3 linked regions of the Homo sapiens genome follow. The protein of the gene in region 2 interacts with the protein of the main gene of each other region in a pairwise test. Each region holds a gene or a part of one and is shown on either strand. Other genes may lie near its edges. The genes, in order: PPP6C, PPP6R2 and ANKRD28.

Evidence for each region.
Region 1: the proteins of PPP6R2 (region 2) and PPP6C interact in binary tests that used the Homo sapiens proteins (3 or more experiments, as listed by UniProt).
Region 3: the proteins of PPP6R2 (region 2) and ANKRD28 interact in binary tests that used the Homo sapiens proteins (3 or more experiments, as listed by UniProt).

The regions. Positions count from the first base shown.
Region 1 is NC_000009.12:125,179,746-125,186,855, reverse strand, and holds part of PPP6C (serine/threonine-protein phosphatase 6 catalytic subunit), read left to right. Parts: intron 1-7,110.
Region 2 is NC_000022.11:50,416,306-50,423,415, reverse strand, and holds part of PPP6R2 (serine/threonine-protein phosphatase 6 regulatory subunit 2), read right to left. Parts: intron 4,550-7,110; coding exon 4,437-4,549; exon of another isoform or gene 4,427-4,436; intron 4,071-4,426; coding exon of another isoform or gene 4,068-4,070; coding exon 3,954-4,067; intron 1,163-3,953; coding exon 1,036-1,162; intron 1-1,035. UniProt on the Homo sapiens protein: Regulatory subunit of protein phosphatase 6 (PP6). May function as a scaffolding PP6 subunit. Involved in the PP6-mediated dephosphorylation of NFKBIE opposing its degradation in response to TNF-alpha.
Region 3 is NC_000003.12:15,682,955-15,690,064, forward strand, and holds part of ANKRD28 (serine/threonine-protein phosphatase 6 regulatory ankyrin repeat subunit A), read right to left. Parts: coding exon 7,065-7,110; intron 6,935-7,064; exon of another isoform or gene 5,393-6,934; coding exon of another isoform or gene 5,357-5,392; intron 3,356-5,356; coding exon 3,268-3,355; intron 3,166-3,267; coding exon 3,048-3,165; intron 2,492-3,047; coding exon 2,272-2,491; intron 1-2,271. UniProt on the Homo sapiens protein: Regulatory subunit of protein phosphatase 6 (PP6) that may be involved in the recognition of phosphoprotein substrates. Involved in the PP6-mediated dephosphorylation of NFKBIE opposing its degradation in response to TNF-alpha.

The sequences.
Region 1 (7,110 bases), on a different chromosome or scaffold from region 2:
TTAGACCATTTTATTTCTTGTTGAAACATAGCTGCATTGTACTTGACTTGTATTTGTTTCTTTTTTTTTCTTAAAAAAATTTTTAATCTTTTTTTTGGTGGGGGAGCGGGGACATGGTCTCACTCTCACCCATGCTGTAGTGTGGTGGCACAATCATGGCTCATTGCAGCCTCGACCTCCTGGGCTCAGGCAGTCCTCCCACCTTAGCCTCCTGAGAAGCTGGGACCACAGGCACATGCCCCCATGACCAGCTAATTTTTATTTATTTTTTTGGTAGAGACAGGGTCTTGCTATGTTACCCAGGCCAGTCTTGAACTCCTGGGCTCAAGCGATCCTCCCACCTTGGCTTCCCAAAATGCTGGGATAACAGGCATGAGCCACTATACTTGGCCTGTATCCATTTCTTAATAAACTTAAAAATATATGTTTTGGGCAACCAAGACAAAAGTATTCTGAATTTTTCTTTATAGGTAGAGACTTTTTTTTCTGTCTTGGAAATGCTTTTATCAGATTAATTTGTTGTGTTGCTCATCTCTGGTGTATTTAAAGAAATTTAATTTTTTTCTGTTTCTTGGCATGAAGTGCAACCTAAAATTAGGCCAAGAAAGTATGCCAGGAGTACTTTTTCTGAGGCTGTAAAGGCAAAATAAAACATTCTATTAAGAAAAGTAATCATTGAGGCCACTTAATGAGCAAGATGGAAAAGATTTGTTCTGTAGAAAAGAAGACAGAAATTTACTTGTGTTTTAAATTGATTAGAAGATAAAATACTAAATGCATACGATGTTCCAGATTTAATCACAATTTCTGTTTCGCTAAGTTGGAAATGGTCACATCACTAGTACTGGATCAAATCTACATAACTGTTTTTGTTTGTTTGTTCGCTCTTGTTGCTCAGGGTGGAGTGCAATGGCGTGAGCTTGGCTCACTGCAACCTCTGCCTCCCGGGTTCAAGCGATTCTCCTGCCTCAGCCTTCCTGAGTAGCTGTGATTACAGGCATGTGCCACCACGCCCAGTTAATTTTGTATTTTTAGTAGAGACCAGGTTTCCCCATGTTGTTCAGGCTGGTCTCGAACTCCTCACCTCAGATGATGCACCCACCTCGGCCTCCCAAAGTGCTGGGATTATAGGTGTGAGCCTGGCCTGTTAGTTTGTTTTTTTGAGACGGAGTCTTGCTCTGTTGCCCAGGCTAGAGTGCAGGTGCACGTTCTCAGCTCACTGCAACCTCCGCCTCCCGGATTCAAGCGATTCTCCTGCCTCAGCCTCCTGAGTAGCTGGGATTACAGGCACCCACCACCACTCCTGGCTAATTTTTGTATTTTTAGTAGAGATGGGGTTTCACCATGTTGGCCAGGCTGGTCTCAAACTCCTGACCTCAGGTGATCCACCCTTCTCAGCCTCCCAAAGTGCTGGGATTACAGGCGTGAGCCACCATGCCTGGCATACATAACAGTTTTGAAGGAATAAGAATGACATATGTGGGCCGGGAGGCTGAGGCAGGAGAATTGCTTGAGCCTGGGAGATGGAGGTTGCAGTGAGCCGAGATCATGCCACTGCACTCCAGCCTGGCCAACAGAGCGAGACCCTGTCTCAAAAAAAAAAAAAAATGACATATGTGAAAGTAAATGGACCACAGTGTAACCTTTCTTATAAAGAGCTCATGTGATTTTATCCACAAGAAAGATTTCAGAGAGATTAATAAAAGATACAGATTCCATACCTGGCTAAATGGAAGAATTAATGATAAAGGCAGGTTTACTGAATACTTATATTTAAGTATTAATATTTTTGGGGAGCAGGGGTTCTATAACTTGGAGGTTGTCTAATCTCTTGGACAGTTCTTAAGGGTGACATGTTTACCTGAGGTTTTTTTTTTTTTTTTTTTTTTGAGACTGAATCTAACTCTATTGCCCAGGCTGGAGTACAGTGGTACCATCTCAGCTCACTGCAGTCTCCACCTCCTGGGTTCAAGCAGTTCTGCCTCAGCTGGGATTACAGGTGCGCACTACCACACCCAGCTAATTTTTGTATATATATATTTTTTGGTAGAGATGGGGTTTCACCATGTTGGCCAGGCTGGTCTCGAACTTCTGGCCTCAGGTGATCCGCCCACCTCGGCCTCCCAAAGTGTTGGGATTACAGATGTGAGCCACTGTGTTTGGCCATTCCTTATTTGTGTTTTCCACAATTTTAGAACACTGCCCTGTATGTGATAATCAGTAAAGGTTTATTGACTCAAACTGTTTACTGCTTTATGACAAATACTTGTTTCTTCTTCTTCTTTTTTTTTTTTTCTTTGAGGTAGGGTCTCAGTCTGCTGCCCAGGGTGGAGTGCAGTGGTGCAGTTGTAGCTTGCTGCAACCTCAAACTCCTGGGCTCAATTGATCCTTCTGCCTCAGCCTCAAAAGTAGCTGGGAGTACAGGTGTGCAATAGTGTGCCCAGCTGATTAATTATTATTTTTATTTTTGAGATGGAGTCTCACTCTGTCACCAGGCTGGAGTGTAATGGCGCGATCTCGGCTCACTGCAACCTCTGCCTCCTGGGTTCAAACAATTCTCCTGCCTCAGCCTCCCAAGTAGCTGGGACTACAGATGCATGCCACCATGCCTGGCTAGTTTTTTGGTATTTTTGGTAAAGATGGGGTTTCACTGTGTTTGCCAGGATGGTCTCAATCTCCTGACCTCGTGATCCACCCGCCTTGGCCTCCCAAAGTGCAGGGATTATAGGCGTTAGCCACCGCGCCTGGCAAAAAAAAAATTTTTTTAAGGGATAGCGTCTTGCTATGCTGTCCAGGCTGGTCCCAAATGCTTCAGGTGATTCTCCTGCCTTGGCCTCCCAAAATGCTGAGATTATAGGTGTGAGCCACTGTGCCCAGCCAACAAACACTTATTTACATGGTTCCTTGTGTTGAGTACTGTTCCCTGTGGGTGCCAGGGGCAGAATTGGATACTTGTGTCTGCCTTTGAGGGGCTTTCAATATAGTAAGGGAGGTAAGGAGGTAAACAAAGACTGTAATAGAGGCTGACCAGGGTGTTGGCAAACAGAAGAAGCAGTATGTAACTTTAGAGTCAGAGATGATTTCATAAAGGAGCAGTTACGAGGGGCAGAGTTCAGGTAGACAAAATGAGAAGGAAAGAACATGCAAACAGAATAAACACCATGTGCAATAGTATAATGTAATTTGCAAGAACATGGCTGGTTCGGGGAACTTGAAGTGGTTTGGTATGGCTGGAGGTGGTACTGGAAAGAAAGATGCCAAATCATAGAAGAGTAGGCTGTTAAACTTAGATTGTTATTTTTTAGGTGGTGCATGAACACTATGAAATGTTTTTATATTTTAGGGAAAAATCATACTGTGATTCGTGATACTGTTTAAAATGTAGCTAACTAAAAATAAAAGTAGATTCAAAGAAAATTATTACAGGGATACACTGTTGTATGTGGTAGGAATATGACAAAATAATGAAAATGGTATTTGGTGTTTGGGAAACACTGCCATAAATGGAGGAATACGCTTGAGGAGTTTTTAAGAAGGAGAATGACAGTAGGCTTTTGAAATGTTTATTCTGGCAGCATTGTGGACCATGGATTGGAATGCAGGAAAAATGTCATAGAAGCAGTAGGCCCGGTGATATGAGAGTCTGAGATAAGGCAATGATAAGTGATTGTTGTGTTGGAAAGGAAATGAAGAAGGTATAGTGGCACCTGTTAACAGATTTGGTCTAGGTTATGATGAAGAGAGTTTAGCATAATTTTTTAGTTTCTGGCAAGGATTACTTAGTACTATAACTAGATTAAGGAATACGGGAAGTTTGGTTTGGGCCATATTGAGTTTGAGATGCTGCCAAGCTAAGACATTGAGATAGAGGTGTCCAGAATTACTCTTGGATACTTATGTTACTTAGATAACAACTACTTGTTGATTGCCAAATGTGCTCTAAACACTGTTCTAATAGTATTAAACGCAGGAGAAAGATCTAGACCAGTCGTTCTCAACTGGGGGCAATTTTGCCCCCCAAAGAATTTTTGGCAGTGTCTGGAGACATTTTTGGTTGTCACAGCTGGGTCAGGGGAGGGGTGGGAAGTTACTATGGGTATCTAGTAGGCGTAGATGTCGGAGATTTTGCTAAACATCCACAAGACAGCAAGCAGTCCCCTGCAATGAATAATTAGTAGTGCCATGGTTGAGAAACTCTGATCTGGCCTGAGGATACAGATACTACCTTCTGGATCATAAGCGTGTGAATATCATGGTCATTCCAGATTTCTAACTTCTCATTCCCAGTGATCTGTATTATAGTAGAGACTTTATATAAAGACTGTGTGAAATATAATGTTAGCTAGATATTTATTTAGTTAGTTACTTAGCTAGCTAGTTGAGATGAGGTTTTGCTATGTTGCCCAAGCTAGTCTTGAGCTCTGGGCCTCCAGCCATCTTCTTGCCTTGGCCTCCCAAAATGCTCATTTTACAGGTGTGAGCCACCACACCTGGCAGTGAGATCTTTTTTTTTAAAGCTAAGAGTGTTTTATAAATACCAGTATGTAAAAGTAGATAAAGGAAGTAGTATGTTTTAGATAACAAGATCAACTAAACAAGTAATTTTAAAAGTTTAGAACCCAGTGTTTGTGAGGGCAAGAGGGAACTGGGAGACAGAACAGAGAATAGAATGGAACTGTGAACAAATGTCTTGAGGAAAAGGTAGAGAAGAGACATAGAGGTCTGCTAAGAATGATGGCTATGAACCCCTTCCTGTTCAAGGATTAGAAAGTAGTTGGGCACCAAACATATGAAAAAGAGCACTGGTCATTAAAGAAATGCAAATCAAAACCGCAATGAGATACCATCTCACGCCAGTTAGAATGGCAATCATTAAAAAGTTAGGAAACAACAGGTGCTGGAGACGATTTGGAGAAATAGGAACACTTTTACACTGTTGGTGGGAGTGCAAATTAGTTCAACTGTTGTGGAAGACAGTGTAGCGATTCCTCAAGGATCTAGAACTAGAAATGCCATTTGGCCCAGCAATCCCATTACTGGGTATATACCCAAAGGATTATAAATCATTCTACTATAAAGATGCATGCACTTGCATGTTTACTGCAGCACTATTCACAATAGCAAAGACTTGGAACTAGCTCAAATGCCCATCGATGATAGACTGGTTAAAGAAAATGTGGCACATATACACCATGGAATACTTTGCAGGGACATGGATGAAGCTGGAAACCATCATTCTCAGCAAACTAACACAGGAACAGAAAACGAAACACCGCATGTTCTCACTCGTAAGCGGGAGTTGAACAATGAGAACATATGGGCAGAGGGGAGGGGAACATCACATGCTGGGGCCTGTCAGGGGGTCCGGGGTAAAGGGAGGGATATCATTAGGAGAAATACCGATTGTAGATGATGGGTTGATGGGTGCAGGAAACCACCATGGCACGTGGATACCTAAGTAACAAACCTGCACGTTCTGCACATGTGTCCCAGAACTTAAGTATAATAAAAAATAAATAAATAGAAAACAGAACACAAAAAAAGAAAGAAAAAATATTTGGGCACGATGAGGAGAAAGGGGTATAGTTTACCCTAAATTTGGGATAAAGCTGTAAAGGGTTTGGGAGGAGAGGAGCATGTGTCTTTACTATGATGACAAGGCAGGGCTCTTTGAGGCCGCTGTGAGTGTAGTTGATTGAGTCACGTAGCGTTTATAGTGAGATTGCATAGACTTCTTATTTTTGTGTGCGCGTGATAGCGATTTGTAAGCTACTGCCAAACTAGAGATGAGAGGCAATAGCTTTGGCTTAGAGACATAGCTCTCTAAATCCTCAGTTGGGGTCAGCAGAGGTGGCAGTCGTAGGACGCAGCTGTAATTTTACTCTAGTTAGTGTGCCTGGGCCCTGGTTGAAGGCTGCTGCTAGGTAGTTTACACGTGTTCTCCAGACACTCAATCTTTCAGATTGACAGAGTTTCACAGCGATGTTCTTCAGTTTATAGTCCACTGTTATTTTCAGGCTAGCACATAGTGTATGGGGTGATAACCAGGGATGACTTCAAGTTTAGGAGGCCTTATGGACTAGGAGAACCAGTTACATGTCAGCGAAAATTCTGGCACATTGAAATATGGGAACCGGCCAGACACAGTGGCTCACGCCTGTAACCCCAGCACTTTGGGAGGCTAAGGTGGGTGTATCACCTGAGGTCAGGAGTTTGAGACCAGCCTGGCCAACATGGCGAAACCCTGTCTCTACTAAAAATACAAAAATTAACCAGGCATGGTGGCGTGTGCCGTAATCCCAGCTACTGGGGGGCTGAGGCAGGAGAATCGCTTGAACCTGGGAGGCGGAGGGTGTAGTGAGCCAAGATCACGCCATTGCACTGCAGCCTGGGTGACAAGAGCGAAACTCCATCTCAAAAAAAGAAAAAATTACAGGCCAAACTTAGAATCATTCATCAGTTCCTGGCATATTTGTTCTTTAATGCAAATAGGTTGCAAACTTTGGATGCTAATTATTATAAAAATAAATATGTATCATAGGTCTAATGGATTATTAATAGAAGTAGGATGCTGTGCAACACTGATATTTTGAAATTGACTGGAAAGACAGCCGTCTATCCACAAGGACTAACTGGATTGAGTGGTTGTGGTCAAGGTTGTGATTATTATTATTTATGAGGTAATACATAGGGCTGTGGGGTGTTGGTATGGGGATGAGGGGAGTGACTGCTAATGTGTATATGGTTTCTTTTTGGGGTGATGAAAGTGTCCTAAAATTGATTATGGTGATGGTTGCCACCACTGTGAATATAATGAAAACCATTGACTCTTACCCTTCAAAGGGATGCATTTTATGTAGGTGAATTATGTTGCAATAGTTGTTTTAAAAAATTATATTCGGGCTGGGTGTGATGCTCACACTTGTAATCCTAGCACTTTGGGAGGCTGAGGCGGGTGGATCACCTGAGGTCAGGAGCTCGAGACCAGCCTGGCCAACGTGGTGAAACCCCATCTCTACTAAAAATATAAAAATTAGCTGGGTGTGGTGGCAGGTGCCTGTAATCCCAGATACTTGGGAGGCTGAGGCAGGAGAATCGCTTGAATCTGGG
Region 2 (7,110 bases):
GGCCACTGCTGGAGTCTCTGGGCTCATGCCCATCACTCTAGGCTGGGACCCAGCCTGGGGTAGCGAGGTATGTGGTGGGGGTTCCTCAGGGAGGGCCGTCTGCCAGAAGAAATGAAGGCATCAATGGGGTGAAGAGCCTGCTGCTCCCCTCAGGGCTTCAGAGAGTGCTCCCAGGATGCTCACGGGCACTCCAGTCTGAGCCTGCAGGGCCAGAGAGCCGTGCACCTCAGCGGGTGAGATGTCCAAGATGGGGCCAGCAGTACCGGTCTAAGGCCAGAGCCCTTGGCACGATGCCTCACTGAGGATGCCCAGTGGGGGTCCCTCTGCGGCCACAATCTCAGAACACCAAGCTAACAAGTGTCCCATGAACACACTTTGGGGACACTGACGGGAATGCCTCCTCCGATGGACCGCGGTCTTTTCTGATCCCCCACACTCAGCCTACTGCACCTACCTTCTCTTCACTGAAACCTCCAGCTGACAAAACAGAATCTTGGCCCCCACAGAGCTCGCTAGTGGGACAGGTGGATCTTACCAAGGTGGCGAGTGAGAGGAACTGAGCTATAGGTCAGGAGGGTGCTATGCAGCAGGGGTCGGGTTGTGTCTGGGGAGGGTGAGACGGGATGGGGAGTTGCCTGGCTGGCAGTCTGAACCAGGAGGAGCCTTTGTGTGCCTCACCCCCCTCAACATGCTGCTGAGCAGGGCAAAGGGCCTCCCCTGCCACCCCCTGGTCCCCTCTCAGGAGCCGAGCACCCCTTAGCTAGGTGCCCCCAACTTGGAGGCCAGGCTTATGGTGACCTCGGGGTCATTTGCAGAGGCAGAGATGAGCATTTGCAGATCTGGGAGGGGCAGTCCTGAAAATGTGTTTTGGCACCTGCCCGGTGCTTCTCAAGTGGGGGTGTGGGAATGGCCGTCTTAGAACACATTCACTCCACACTCTGCTACCTATGGGACAAGCTGTGGCTTCTCCTCCCTGCAAATCAACCTCTCCTGCGACGCCTCCAAAGGCACTCAGCAGTCGCCACGGCCATTTACCTTGGGCGGGTTGAGCAGGAGCTGGTGGAAGTCCTTCAGCCGAGGCTCGATGCCGTGTAGTACGCTGCTGCTGACAGCGTATGACCTTTCCAGTCCCTGAGAAAAGGAGTCCACCAAGCCCTCTGTCCTGTGGATGAGGAAAGCAGATGGAGACCGGGGACACCAGGACCCTGTCCAACCTCACCAGCAACTCAGTGCACCCGCTTCTTCCAGAAAGAGCCCTTTTAACTTTCCCAAAAAGAAACCCTAGAGCAGTGCAGCTACCCAGCGTCTCCACACGTGATCTGGTGACTGGTACAGGCAGAAGAGAAAGGTACTAAAGACCTTCAGGCAGATGCTTGCTTGCGACATCCGAGAATATGGAGGCAGGGCAAGTGACACAACACAGGACTCACTGGCCCTAGCACCAGTTAGAGGTCCTGCTCTGTCCCACTTTTAAAACCTTCACTGCTATCCCTGTCTCTTTCACTGTTCCTGTGTCGACTTTTATTTTTATTTATTTTTATTTTTTTTGAGCCAGAGTCTCGCTCTGTCACCCAGGCTGGAGTGCGATGGTGCGATCTTAGCTCACTGCAACCTCCACCTCCTGGGTTCAAGCGATTCTCCTGCCTCAGCCTCCTTTTTGTATTTTTAGTAGAGACAGGATTTTGCCATGTTGGCCAGGCTGGTCTCGATCACCTGACCTCAGGTGATCCACCCGCCTTGGCCTCCCAAAGTGCTGGGATTACAAGCGTGAGCCACTGCGCCTACCCCCTGTGGTGTTTTCAAGCAAGTCTTCTGAGATATTTATTTAAACACTCTTTCCAGTTGTAAAAGTAATACGTAATCATATATTTTTTAAAGTAATATGCAAAATAATTTTAAAAATCAGAGAGCCAGGTGCAGTGGCTCACACCTATAATCCCAGCACTTTGGGGGGGACAGGTGGGAGGATCGCTTGAGCTCAGGACTCTGAGGCCACGCTGAGATATGATCGTGCTGCTGTACTCCCACGTGGGTGACAGAGCAAGACACTGTCTGAAAATAATAATAATAATAATCACAATAATCTAAGAGAAACAGCTGGCTTATCTCTGTTTTCCTGATTTTTACACAGTCCCCTCTATCACATACAGGGTTAAGCTTGGGCCTCAGAAGTGGCTCAGCTTTCCTGGGTTTATGAAGATTAAAATATCAATATTCCAGTTGCCTAACTAGAGAAAACGGTAACATTATAACACTACTTCTGGTTAATAAACTAACAAATATGTATTAGGTACTACCAGAGACAGACAGAGAGAGAGAGAGAGAGAGAAAGAGAGTCCTAACAACCTCACTATCAAGGTTAAGTCAATTTCTTATCATTTTCTCATTGTTCCTTTTTCTTTCACTTTAAAAAAGCACAGGCTATCAGTGTTGGGGGCTGAATTATGTTCTCCCCAGAACGTGGAAATAAGGGAGCTACGGCCACCTTGGGAGAGTTAGACATCGTCCCAGCCTGTGATGGAACGGAGACGACGGAAACGTCCTGAGACATCAGGTTCCTGCCGGCATGTGGGGAACCTGAATCCAGAGATGGGGTTCAAGGGCCAGGGTGAGGCCAGGAGGGGAAGTGCCCAGAGGACACTGATGTGGCCCTTTTGGGACACACCCTATAGGATCTCCTGGGCACCTGGCGGGCCAACCACACCCCCTTGTGCCAATGCCTCCCTCACAGACTCCACTCGGCTGTCTTTCCATTTGCGCCTCATGGGCATCCTCTTTGGAGTTTCAACTGCTTGAACGGCTCTGGCAGTGCCCAGCCTTCTATGACTTGAGGGAAGGACTAGGCCACACTATGATCCAGAGAAACAGTTTCAAACACTTCCTGAAATTTCTACTGGGGGTCAGAGAAGGGTCTCCAGCACCTATATCCTCAAACAAACTCAACTTTCACCCGAACTCACTCTTCTGCTGCTGACTCCTCTGTCTCTGCCCATTCACTGTCGTGACTCAGCAGCCTCCGACAGCTGCACCTCAGGACAGCGATGTGGGGTCACAGCAAAGGAGCACCTCCAAGCAAGCTCCACTCTCCTCTGCCACATACTGCCCCATGCTTGTGTCCACACTGGGACCCCCTCACTGCCTCATCCAAGGAGCTGTGTCTGACCAGATGCGGCCTCTCAGGGAAAATGTCCCTGACTGCGAGGCTCCACCCACCAGCCCCATGTGGGTCCCTTCTTGTGAGCCCCGAGGCACTGGGTGCATGTCTACTGCACTCGCCACTCTGCATCACCCTCGCTGTCCACAGACGGGCCTCCTGTGCCAGACTGGGAGCAATTAAAGGGGAGGGGCTGTGTCTCAGTTCTCTGTCTCCTCGGGCCCGTGTTAGTGCACAGTGGGTGCAGAAATGACACCTGATGAATGAGAAAGGGCAATGGAGGAGAGTCGCCTGGGAAAAAAGTGCTCAGCACGACGCTCAGCAGGCGGTGCCGACCCGTGGGTGCACAGGGCACGGGAGACAGCGGTGAGTGTCACACCCCTGCCCTGTGAGGGCCAGTCTGCATGGGAGATAAACACATGTATATGTAACCATGCATCAGAGTGGAAACCCTGCGACACACACACAAACACACACGGGAGCTGTGGGGACTTGTCGGAACAGTCCTTGGGGAAAACCTGCCAACCACACCTGTTCCACGCACATCGACAAATGCATCGCCAACTGGTCGTGACGAGCAGCTTCAGGCTGGAGAGGGAGCACCAGTGATGATGAGGGTCTAAGGGGACTTGGCCACAGCCATAAAGTCAAGCCTTCAACAAGGGGAATCTATCCATGTTGTTACTTGCATAATCAAAAATTAAAACCACAAATGACATAATCCAGACTGCTCGTGTGGGCTGCCATATCACTGAGGCGTCAAGTTCAGCTCTACACGATTTCTCCTCGTGAGACTCACCCAACCCGCCTGGTTTCCAGCAAGGTGAGTAACACCTGAGTCCCACTGACGAGGCAGCTCTCCGTCCGGTCTCCATCAAACATGTTCTTCAGAAGCTGCTCCACACAGTCCTGCCTGCTGGACACACACAGAGGTCACTGCCTGGCAGAGCAGACACACACACAAAGGATGCAAGGATGCTCCTTCCTCCCCGTGGAGGACCCCAGCAAAACCCTCAACCTGCTCAGGCTCAAGGCAAGGCGCCAGGGTTCTCAGGACACTCCTGCTGCTGCTGGCCCACTCTCTAGACCCACCAGGTGACTCCTCTGGAGACCCCTCCCTCTGGAAACAGGCCCCAAGTTAACATGGGCTCTGAACCTGGGGTTCATTCGAATGTGAATCAGAGGAGGTGGCAACATATCCTGGTGCTCAGAGCAAGGCTCACAGACGTCCCCATGACCCAGAAAGGGAGGCCCACCAGCACCACGGCCCACCAGCACTCACGACTCCAGCGCTGTGAGGAGCGGGTCTGGCTCCAGAGCCTCTTGCAGCTGACTGCCCTGGTCTCTGCCCAGCCTAACTATGTCACAGAGAGTCTGAGAAGCATTTGACTGCCTCTGAAAAGACAAGGGAAACACAGAGTCCCTCAGTGTGGAGAAGAAACAGCAGGACCAGCCCTGCTGGGCACACAGGGCACAAGTCCTGCTGCTTCTCTGGCAGATGCTAGACTTTCGTTGTTGTTCAATACCACTGTGATGTTCAAATACTTTTTCTTTTTTTTTAAGATGTGGGACTTTTGGCCAGGCACAATGGCTCAGGCCTGTAATCCTAGCACTTTGGGAGGCCAAGGCAGGCAGATCATCAGGTCAGGAGATCAAGACCATCCTGGCTAACACGGTGAAACCCCATCTCTACTAAAAATACAAAAAATTAGCCGGGCGTGGTGGCGGGTGCCTGTAGTCCCAGCTACTCGGTTGGCTGAGGGCAGGAGAATGGCTTGAACCTGGGAGAAGGAGCTTGCAGTGAGCCAAGATCGCACCACTGCACTCCAGCCTGGGTGACAGAGCGAGACTCCATCTCAAAAAAAAAAAGAAAAAGATGTGGGACTTTCTCTAAACCAGTTTCCTACAAAGAAAGATTCCAGACAACAGCTTCATTTCAAAGAAGCCTGTGTCTGCCTTTTCTGTCGTCAAAATGTAGATCTGGTTAGAGTTTTCTTTTTTTTAAAGCTGCATTGAACTATCTTCAGGAATTCAAAACAGGGCTAATAATGGTCAGATATGCAATGCAGATACTGGGCTATACCTGTGATCCACGTTTTGAAATATGCTGAATATGTGGCCATGTTACTGATACTATATTTTAAATGTGGTAATAAGTAGCTGCTATTATTCAGAATGAGTCCTGTAAGCTAATGAAAATAGGGAAGTTGCTACCAAGAAAACAGAGGACTCATCTTTTCTAGGGAAACATTAACACGCAATCCGTGATGGGAACGTGCCCCTGCTGACAATGTAGGGCTGTTCTGTAGGTAAGACAAATGTGATTAAGAGAGAAACAACCCCTGACTCCCTGCAGCATTGGTTCACATGCTGTGGGAAGACTGAGGGAAAGCAAACACTCACAGGAGTATTTTAGGGAGAAAAGAAAGCAGCCAGATTAGCTCTCAGGTCTGCCTTTGGGACCCAGGCCAGGCCATCAGCCCACAACACCCACATGCATGGGTGGGCTCCAGTTCTCAGGCAGGGCGGCCTCCTTGCTTCCTACAGACGCCAACATCAGGCAGGGCGGCCTCCTTGTTTCCTACAGACGCCAACGTGGCCTCTCCTGTCTGTCTGATCAGCCCTGTGGGCTGATGGAGAACAAAGTAGGGTGGTTGGCCAGGCAGCGGTGAAGGCCTCAGACACGAGTCAGCACCACTGTTTTCCAATCTGCCAAGGACACGTGGTTGTATGTATAGATCGGTATGTGTAATGCTAGGAAAAGGCCTACTGGGATATACCCCAAACTCTCAACAGGGATCACCACAGGGAGCCCCATTGTCACCTTAGGTGCTTCCAGGGTGGGTGGCTCCTAGGGGGCCCCTAGCAATCCCGTCCTGGAGTTCATGCCTTTATAGCCCCCATCTCTTTTAGTGTGGGCTGGACCCAGCCACCCAGGTCTAAAGAGCCAAATACATTAAGAGTGAGGGGAAAGCTCAGCTCCACGTTGTGTGCTGCCCTGTGGAGACGCCCATGTGGTGCAATGCTGAGGGCGGCCTCGGCCCACAGCCCTGAGGAACTGGATGCTGCCAAGCCATCTGTGACCATGGAGCTGGCCTCTACCCCAGTGGAGCTCTGAGATGACTGTATTTTGTGAGACTCAACAGAAGAGCCACTAAGCCACATTCAGACGCCTGATCCACAGAAACTGATACTGCTACAGGTAAAAATACTTGCCATAAGCAACTACATTTCAGGGTAATTTGCTATTCGGTCACAGACGACTGATACAATTCTATTAGAATTGTTCTTTGGTTTGCTTGTTTGTTGAGACAGAATCTCACTGTCGCCCAGGCTGGAGCACAGTGGTGTGATCTCGGCTCACTGCAAGCTCCCCTTCCTGGGTTCAAGTGATTCTTGTGCCTCAGCTTCCTGAGTGGCTGGGATTACAGGCACCTGACACCACACTTCGCTAATTTTTAGTAGAGACAGGGTTTCGCCACGTTGGCCAGGCTGGTCTCAAAACTCCTGACCTCAAGTGATCGGCCCGCCTCAGCCTCCCCAAGTGCTGGGATTACAGGCATGAGCCACCGCGCCTGTCCTATTTTTATAATACACATAGATTATTTTTCAGTTAAGAAAAAAAAGTGTAGGCCAGGCATGGTGGCTCACTCCTGTAACCACAGCACTTTAGGAGGCTGAGGTAGGAGGATCACTTGAGGCCAGGTTTTTGAGACCAGCCTGAGCAATGTAGTGAGACCTCATCTCTATTTAAACAACAACAACAACAAGAAGAAAACAGCCTAGAGGCTGGGTGTGGTGGCTCACCCGACTGGGTGAGCAGGAGAATTGCTTGAACCCAAGAGGCGGAGGTTGTGGTGAGCCGAGATTGCACCACTGCACTCCAGCCCAGGCAACAAGAGCGAAACGCCATCTCAAAAAAAAAAAGAAAAAAAAAATCCAGCCTAGAAGTCAGT
Region 3 (7,110 bases), on a different chromosome or scaffold from region 2:
TGCAGTTCTTGCAAAATTCTGTCTCTTGCACAAAACGTGCTTAGAGTCTAAATTTAGCAGTGATAGAGTAGGAACTCACTTTAGGGAAAATGTTCTACATATAGATCTGATAACAAACACTGTAATAGAAAGCAACTCTCCAAAGGACAGTTACAGCAGTACATTTACAACTAAATGCTCTTCCTGAGGAAAAATATCTCACTGTGTGATTTTTCCAATGGTTAATCTTCAGGGATATATTTTTTTAAAAACCAAGCAGTAAGTCTTTGCTTCTGAACAGTTTTATCTCACTGACTTTTTTACAGAAACACAACTCACAATTGTAGATATTTTCCCACTATATTAGATATTTTGGGTTTTCCTTATACTTGTAAAATGTCAAGTCACATTACAGAAACAAATCAAACATCAATGGCAAAATACAGTATCTTCTTTGTTCTAGTATGAGTACTAGTCTCTGGCCACTTCACTACACTCATTTCTACTTGCCTTAGCGAGTAGAAATGGGAAAAAGAGAAGTTAAACCCCAAAGGTTTTATAGTTTTCAAAACTGTTTTGGTTAAGGATTTAAGGTAGTAAAAAACAAAGAGACTAAACTAGCTTGTTCAATGAGCAACAGATTTAACTATTCAAGTTTTTATGGTGCTATCAGTACTCAGCTGAAGGATAACCAACAGTATAACAGGACAAACCTCAAGAACCCAAAATGTTCTAACGGCAAAAGAATACAACTCCCAACTTTGGCATAAGGACTAATATGAAAATCAAAATATTGTATCTCAGAAATACTTGTGGAAACATTTAATGAAGTTATAATTTTACAAGATTCAGCTTTTTCCTCTTTTGCTTTAACTTGATAACTTTGTCAGAACAGCTCCCAGTGAAAGAACTATGAAACAGCATATTATAGAAAGATAGGAAATCTCAACTTCCTGGTAAGGCAGTCTGATTTTACAACAGATATTATACTTATTTATTTTTAGCAAATGGGTATTTATATAAAGAGACAACTTATATTTTCTCTGCATTTTGAGGGAAGGTTATTAGAATTGTGAACTACAGCTTTGTAGATCTGCTGTCATAATTAACATTAATCTTGAAGCTACACTGAAATTGAAAACAAATTTTAAAAACCTCTAATTTCTCTACTAAAGCCTGAAGCTTGAACTTTGACAACACTGATGCTTGCACTGTATATAATGTACTTGAGTTTTCTAAGATGATCAAATCTAAAAATATCTCAACATGCTTCATTGCATAAATTATTTTAATTAGTGGCATTTCATAAGCCAAACTGCATTTTTAACATCTATAACTTCAAAGTAGCTTTATGCTTCCCTACGTGACCTTTTATGAGTCTACCTATAAAAGCGATGACTGTGACTGTGAGCCTGTAGGAGGCCAAAGAAAATCTCTTTTAACCATGTAGCAGAGTTAACCCATCAAAGTTTCTAATTCTAAGACCTGCTAGGGATTTATTCCTTTAAAACATTGAACATGGATATTACTGGTAATATAAGAATGTTATCTTGCAATGTGCTCAGAAAACATACATAGATTTCAGTTTAGAATGTGATACATCTCACTGTTTCTCCTACTTTTGGTTATTTTTCCCCTAATATGATTGTATTTAGAAAGTAAAAGAACATGGCTGGGTGCAATGGCTCATGCCTGTAATCCTAGCACTTGGGGAGTCTGATGTGGGAGGATTGCTTAAGCCCAGTTGTTCAAGACCAGCCTGGGCAACATAGTGGGACTCTTAAAAAAAAAAAAATAGTAAAAGAACACAATCAAAATACAAGCACACTATATAAAAGCAATGGAAACATTCTAAAAACCTCCTAAAAATGCAAAATATTTGTGGAAATAAGGATCTAAGAAAAACTTCAGGCTACATGGTGGCTCATGCCTGTAATCCCAACACTTTGGGAGGCTGAGGTGGGAGGATCACTTGATGCCAGGAGTTCAAGACCAGCCTGGGCAACATAGCAAGATCCTACCAAAACTAAAAAAGAAAAGAAAAGAAAAGAAAAACCTCAAAAATACTTCATGGCTTATCTCAGAACACCTTTGACAACTAGTGTCTTGGCTTTAGCATGACAAAGGACAGGAGTGAGCCTACGTACTAAGTATTATTAGTACGTGAGCCTATACAGTAGATTATTCCCAAGGTTTTTGCTAATTTTAAACTTAAAATTTGCCTTATAAATATGTCATTCTTTTATCTCTGTTCACTACACAATGATATGCATTTGTGTTTGTATACTTAACCATTGTAGCAAGCCCAGTGAAGTGCCGTATATCCATGATTGTCTGCTGTGGCTGGATTTGCATCCATAGATGCTGCTGACTGCAAAAGGGCTCCAAGAACACCAATGTGTCCACAGGCAGCAGACAGGTGTATAGGCGTCCGGCCCCTGCTATCCCGAAGTAAGCACTTAGCACCATGTTGAAGTAATGCATCTACACATTCTTCATGGCCTGTAACTGCCTGAAAGAAAATAATTTAAAGGTAGTCAAACATATTATGCTAAACATTACATGCCAATTTCAGCTAATTAAAAACTTTAAAGACCATACTCTCCATATCCTTCCATCAATTAAAGCCATTTATCATTTTATGAGTAATTCTGTATTTTTATTGGAAGTGGTTTAAAAATTCAGTTAAAGCAAGAACCCTTCTAAAATGCAAATAGTATGAAAACAGGAAGAGAGAAACTTGGTATTCAATGAAAATAATGATATTTCAAAGGTGAAAAAAGATTAAAGTGTATAAGAAAATAAGTGAGATAATGGAAAAAGTCAAATTGACATTAATTCTACTAAAAGTTTTAGAGTTTTAAAATTTTGTTCTAACATTGTTCTCTAGATTAAGTTGTACTCTGTAATTGTTCAAAATTAGCATTTAAAAACTAAGATACTGAAAGAAATGGTAAAGACTATTTGACGAACATTTAATGAAGAAAAAATAAACATAACCTAGTTCAGTTCTAGGTAATATGAGGTCATAAAAGCTTTTTGAAAGGAAAGAGCATATTTCTGCTTACCCCTCTATGCAACGCTGTCCTTCCCCACTTATCTTTGGCATCTACATTTGCTCCTTTGTTCAGCAATGAGTAAACACAGTCTGTGTGCCCGTTGAGAACAGATAGCATCAGAGGCGTCCTGAGCAACAACAGGAATAGGTTCAGTGCTGTCACTTAAGACTGTACTCTGGTTTTCGAAATACGCCCTTCTGTGATGCAACAATTATTTATCGAAACTTACTGTCCATTTCCATCTTGAATATCCACTGCATTCTGTGGTTCTGCATTTCCTATTAATAGCCGTAAGCATTCTGAATGACCATTTGTTGCTGTAAAGTGAAATTTAAACATTTCAGTAATTACATATAATGATAAAATAGAAAATGTCCATCTAAAAGCACATCTTCTAGAATTTACTTTTGGGATAGTTGCACTGAATTTAATATGCAAGAATGAAAACTATAGGTAAAAAGAAGGTTTCTACGGCCTTTGACTGTTAAAGCTGGAATAAATGTGAATTCCTCACAGTAAAACATGACAGGCAGACCGCCTACCCAGCACCCATGCCCTATCATCTGCCTCTAAAAGAATGCTCATTTTATTTAGCTCTCTGGCAATGTGGTCAGGAAGAGTGCCTTGACTCCAGCAAAGGGATGATACCATGATTAGACCAAGTCAATCACAAGAACCCCATTCTCCTCTGACAGTGATCAGTTTTAAGGTGAGCAGCACAGGAACCAGGTCTGACTACTGAGATGCCGATAAGTCTAGAGGCTGCTGGGAAATACTTTTATCTTTAATAATGAAAAGCCCCCATTCCTTCCTGATTTTAGATGCAATCCTTAAAAGCAGCAGCAATAATCCCACAACATGAATGCAAATGTAAGAGAATAACAGAATTTAATCCAGAGCTCTGACACCGTTGTAGAATCAACCAACCCTGGAACTGCATCTGCCTGATATTGCTTTTTTTTTTTTTTTGAGACAGAATCTCGCTCTGTCGCCCAGGCTGGAGTGTAGTGGTGTGATCTTGGCTCACTGCAACTTCCGCCTCCTGGGTTCAAGCAATTCTCTGCCTCAGCCTCCCAAGTAGCTGGGATTACAGGCGCCTGCCACCACACCCGGCGATTTTTTTTGTATTTTTAGGAGAGATGAGGTTTCACCATCTAGGCATGGCTGGTCTTGAACTCCTGACCTCATGATCCACCCACCTCGGCCTCCCAAAGTGCTGGGATTACAGGCATGAGCCACCGTGCCCAGCCTGCCTTTCGACATTGTATATGAGACACTAAACCCCTTAAGCTATTTTCAGTAGGGTACTCTGTTATTTATGGCTGAAATAATTTCAAATGATATATATATATATACATACAGTACAAGAAAAATGATCCATCTAAAGAATGCATGTGTTAAGTCCAAATGCATAAAATGGGCAAGGGTACAAGTAGAAGTAGTCCAAAGAAAAGAGCTTTTGAAGTAAGTTAAATCCTCTGCAAAATTCAGGTCCTGTTAATATATACAAAGTCTGAAGTTTAAAGAAATACATTAGAAAAAAATGTATCTTGCATATGATACAGAAAAGAACGTCTATCACTATTTCTTCTAATTAAAAGATGACAAAACTAGCAAAAGCAAGCTAGGTGCTGAATATTCCACAGTATGTTCCCACAGTTATATTAAATACTAATAGTTATTAAACTTGTGGCTTAAATCACCTCTCCTACCCTAGTCCAATCTGTATGCTGCACTCTGCCAGCAGCTCTCACAGCTTAGCAACAAAAAACAGGGTCGTAACACTTGGGGATGTTCAAGAAGAACTTGTTTGGCCCATCATTTTTCAAATCAGTTCATTTACACTCAGTTCACAGTCGCTACTGATGAATGTTTGTGTCATCTAAGTTCAATACCCAAACAGCAAGCACAGCATCTCTGTGGGAAATGACTGGTAAACCTCCAGGAAAAAAAACCCTCAGTGTTCTTTTCATGGCTTATAGATGCTCTCTATAGACCTCCAAATTTGAAAGGCATCTATAGATACAAGGCTTGCATTTATTGAATAGATAGGCACTAAGAGTAACCTGTGGTTCTTTTTGTGGGTAGGATTTATGCTGAACTATATGGCATTGGTTAACTACTTCTAAGGGACTGGCTAATGTCTCAGTTCAATATTTACCTATTGAGAGTGCAACCACTCCATGCAAGCTTTAAATTAGTTCTGCATATGATCTGCAATTATAATTTTTCTAGCTATAGATTAATATTTTTAAAATGTACTTATTTTTCACAGATCCCATCCAGTGTACAAAATTGATTTTTATTTTATATTTTAGGAACAGGGTTTCATCATGTTGCCTAGAGTGCAATGAAACTGAACTCAAGTGACCCTCTTGCCTCAGCCTCCCAAGTTAGGTGGGAATACAGGCATGCGCCACCAAGTTTGGCTTTGCAAAGTGATATATAACTTCACTCTTTTTCAGAATAAGGTAACAGCAAGTAATGCATTTTAACCTCTTGTTCAAACCATATAGTAGTGTATATATGTTTATTAGAGGTTCTAATGTATTATTAAAATATTTTTCTCAGCCCCACTTGAACATCTGATAGCTTTGAAGGGCGGCTCTGGGAGTAACAGTGGGTGTTATCAATAGTCTTCTAAAATGTAAGCTTCCCAAAGGACTAGAAAAAAAATCCAAGACATATATTCAAATGTATTCTTAAGGATCACTCTATAAAAATAGAGAGTTGTGAATCTGCATCTGCCAGTGATACGCAGTGGGTAGCAAGTCATTTAACTGACTTGGTTATAGACCTTCGTATTTTAACGTATCTGCTACATCATAATATCACAATATGGAATAGTTCTTGCATAAAGTGCTCTGTAAAGCCTGTCTGCATAAATGTTTAATGCAGTACACTGGTAAAATAAGTCAAAACGTGTATCACTTGTTAAATGAAAGATTATACCAATCCAAAATAACTTCTACCAGAAAGAAATAAATACTGCATTGTTTTGTTGATAAAGTGTTTCAGAAGTTAGATTATTACATAAACCCAACTTCTAAGGCAGATAATGTTTTAAGTGATGATAGTCTTGTTGTTGGTATTCCCTGAGAATACAATCATTTTACCACTTAAAGTCAAAAATTTCCCCAGACAGTTGTAGCTCTTGGTAATCTCCTTGGGTCTGGAAACTTTTGAAGAGCCAAGCTGACATTTTTCAGCTCTTTGGGCCACTGGGTTTTAGAGGGAGAAGTCCAGAGATAAGTCCAGGCTGTAGCACAACCTTCAAAACAACACAGGCGCCTCTCTGATCCTGCCCTACCTAAGCTTTGACGGTAGTGGGGCTTCTGTCTGGAGAAATGCCTTCAAAGAGTAACCAGTAGGTGTGACATAGAATTGGCCAATGTTAGCATCTGCAGCCATCATCAAAAGATGAATCCACTGCCACTGCCCCCTGAGGGGCCCCTAAAATTGCAGAAGGTATCAGCAAGGAGGCTGCCAAGGTTGTTTTCCAAGAGAGGCCACAGGAGGAAGGGAGCTACTTGGGGGCACTTACATCTTTTGTGCAGAGGAGCTTCTTTTCATGAGAGCAGGACAGTTTTAATGACTTCTTAAACACTTGTGTGGGACAGGCTGGAGCATGAGGGAGGTTTTAAGCCAGGCACAAAGTTAGTTTCAAACACTAGTTAATAAATCTATTTTTATTTCCTTTTTCACACAGAAGCTGGTAGTCTAGGACCTACATGTAAACAACTTTATATGAATATTTTTTGTGCTTGGTTTACTTGGGTTGATATAATACACTGTATTTAAGTTCCCTGAACACTGGGATACTCCTAATGTTTATGAATGACGGAGGCTTTGTAAATTCATTTGTGTGAATAAAGTTATTTGGTGAGGTCAAATAATCCATATATGATTTGAAAAAAAAAAAGGTCAAAATTTTAAAGACAATTAACTGGAAATATTATATATCAGAAATTGAAAAAAAGTATTGGATAGAAGTTATAAATAAATCAAGCATAATATCTGGCATACCTGCTGCATGAATAGGTGTCCTCTTCAAAATGTAATCTTTTACTAA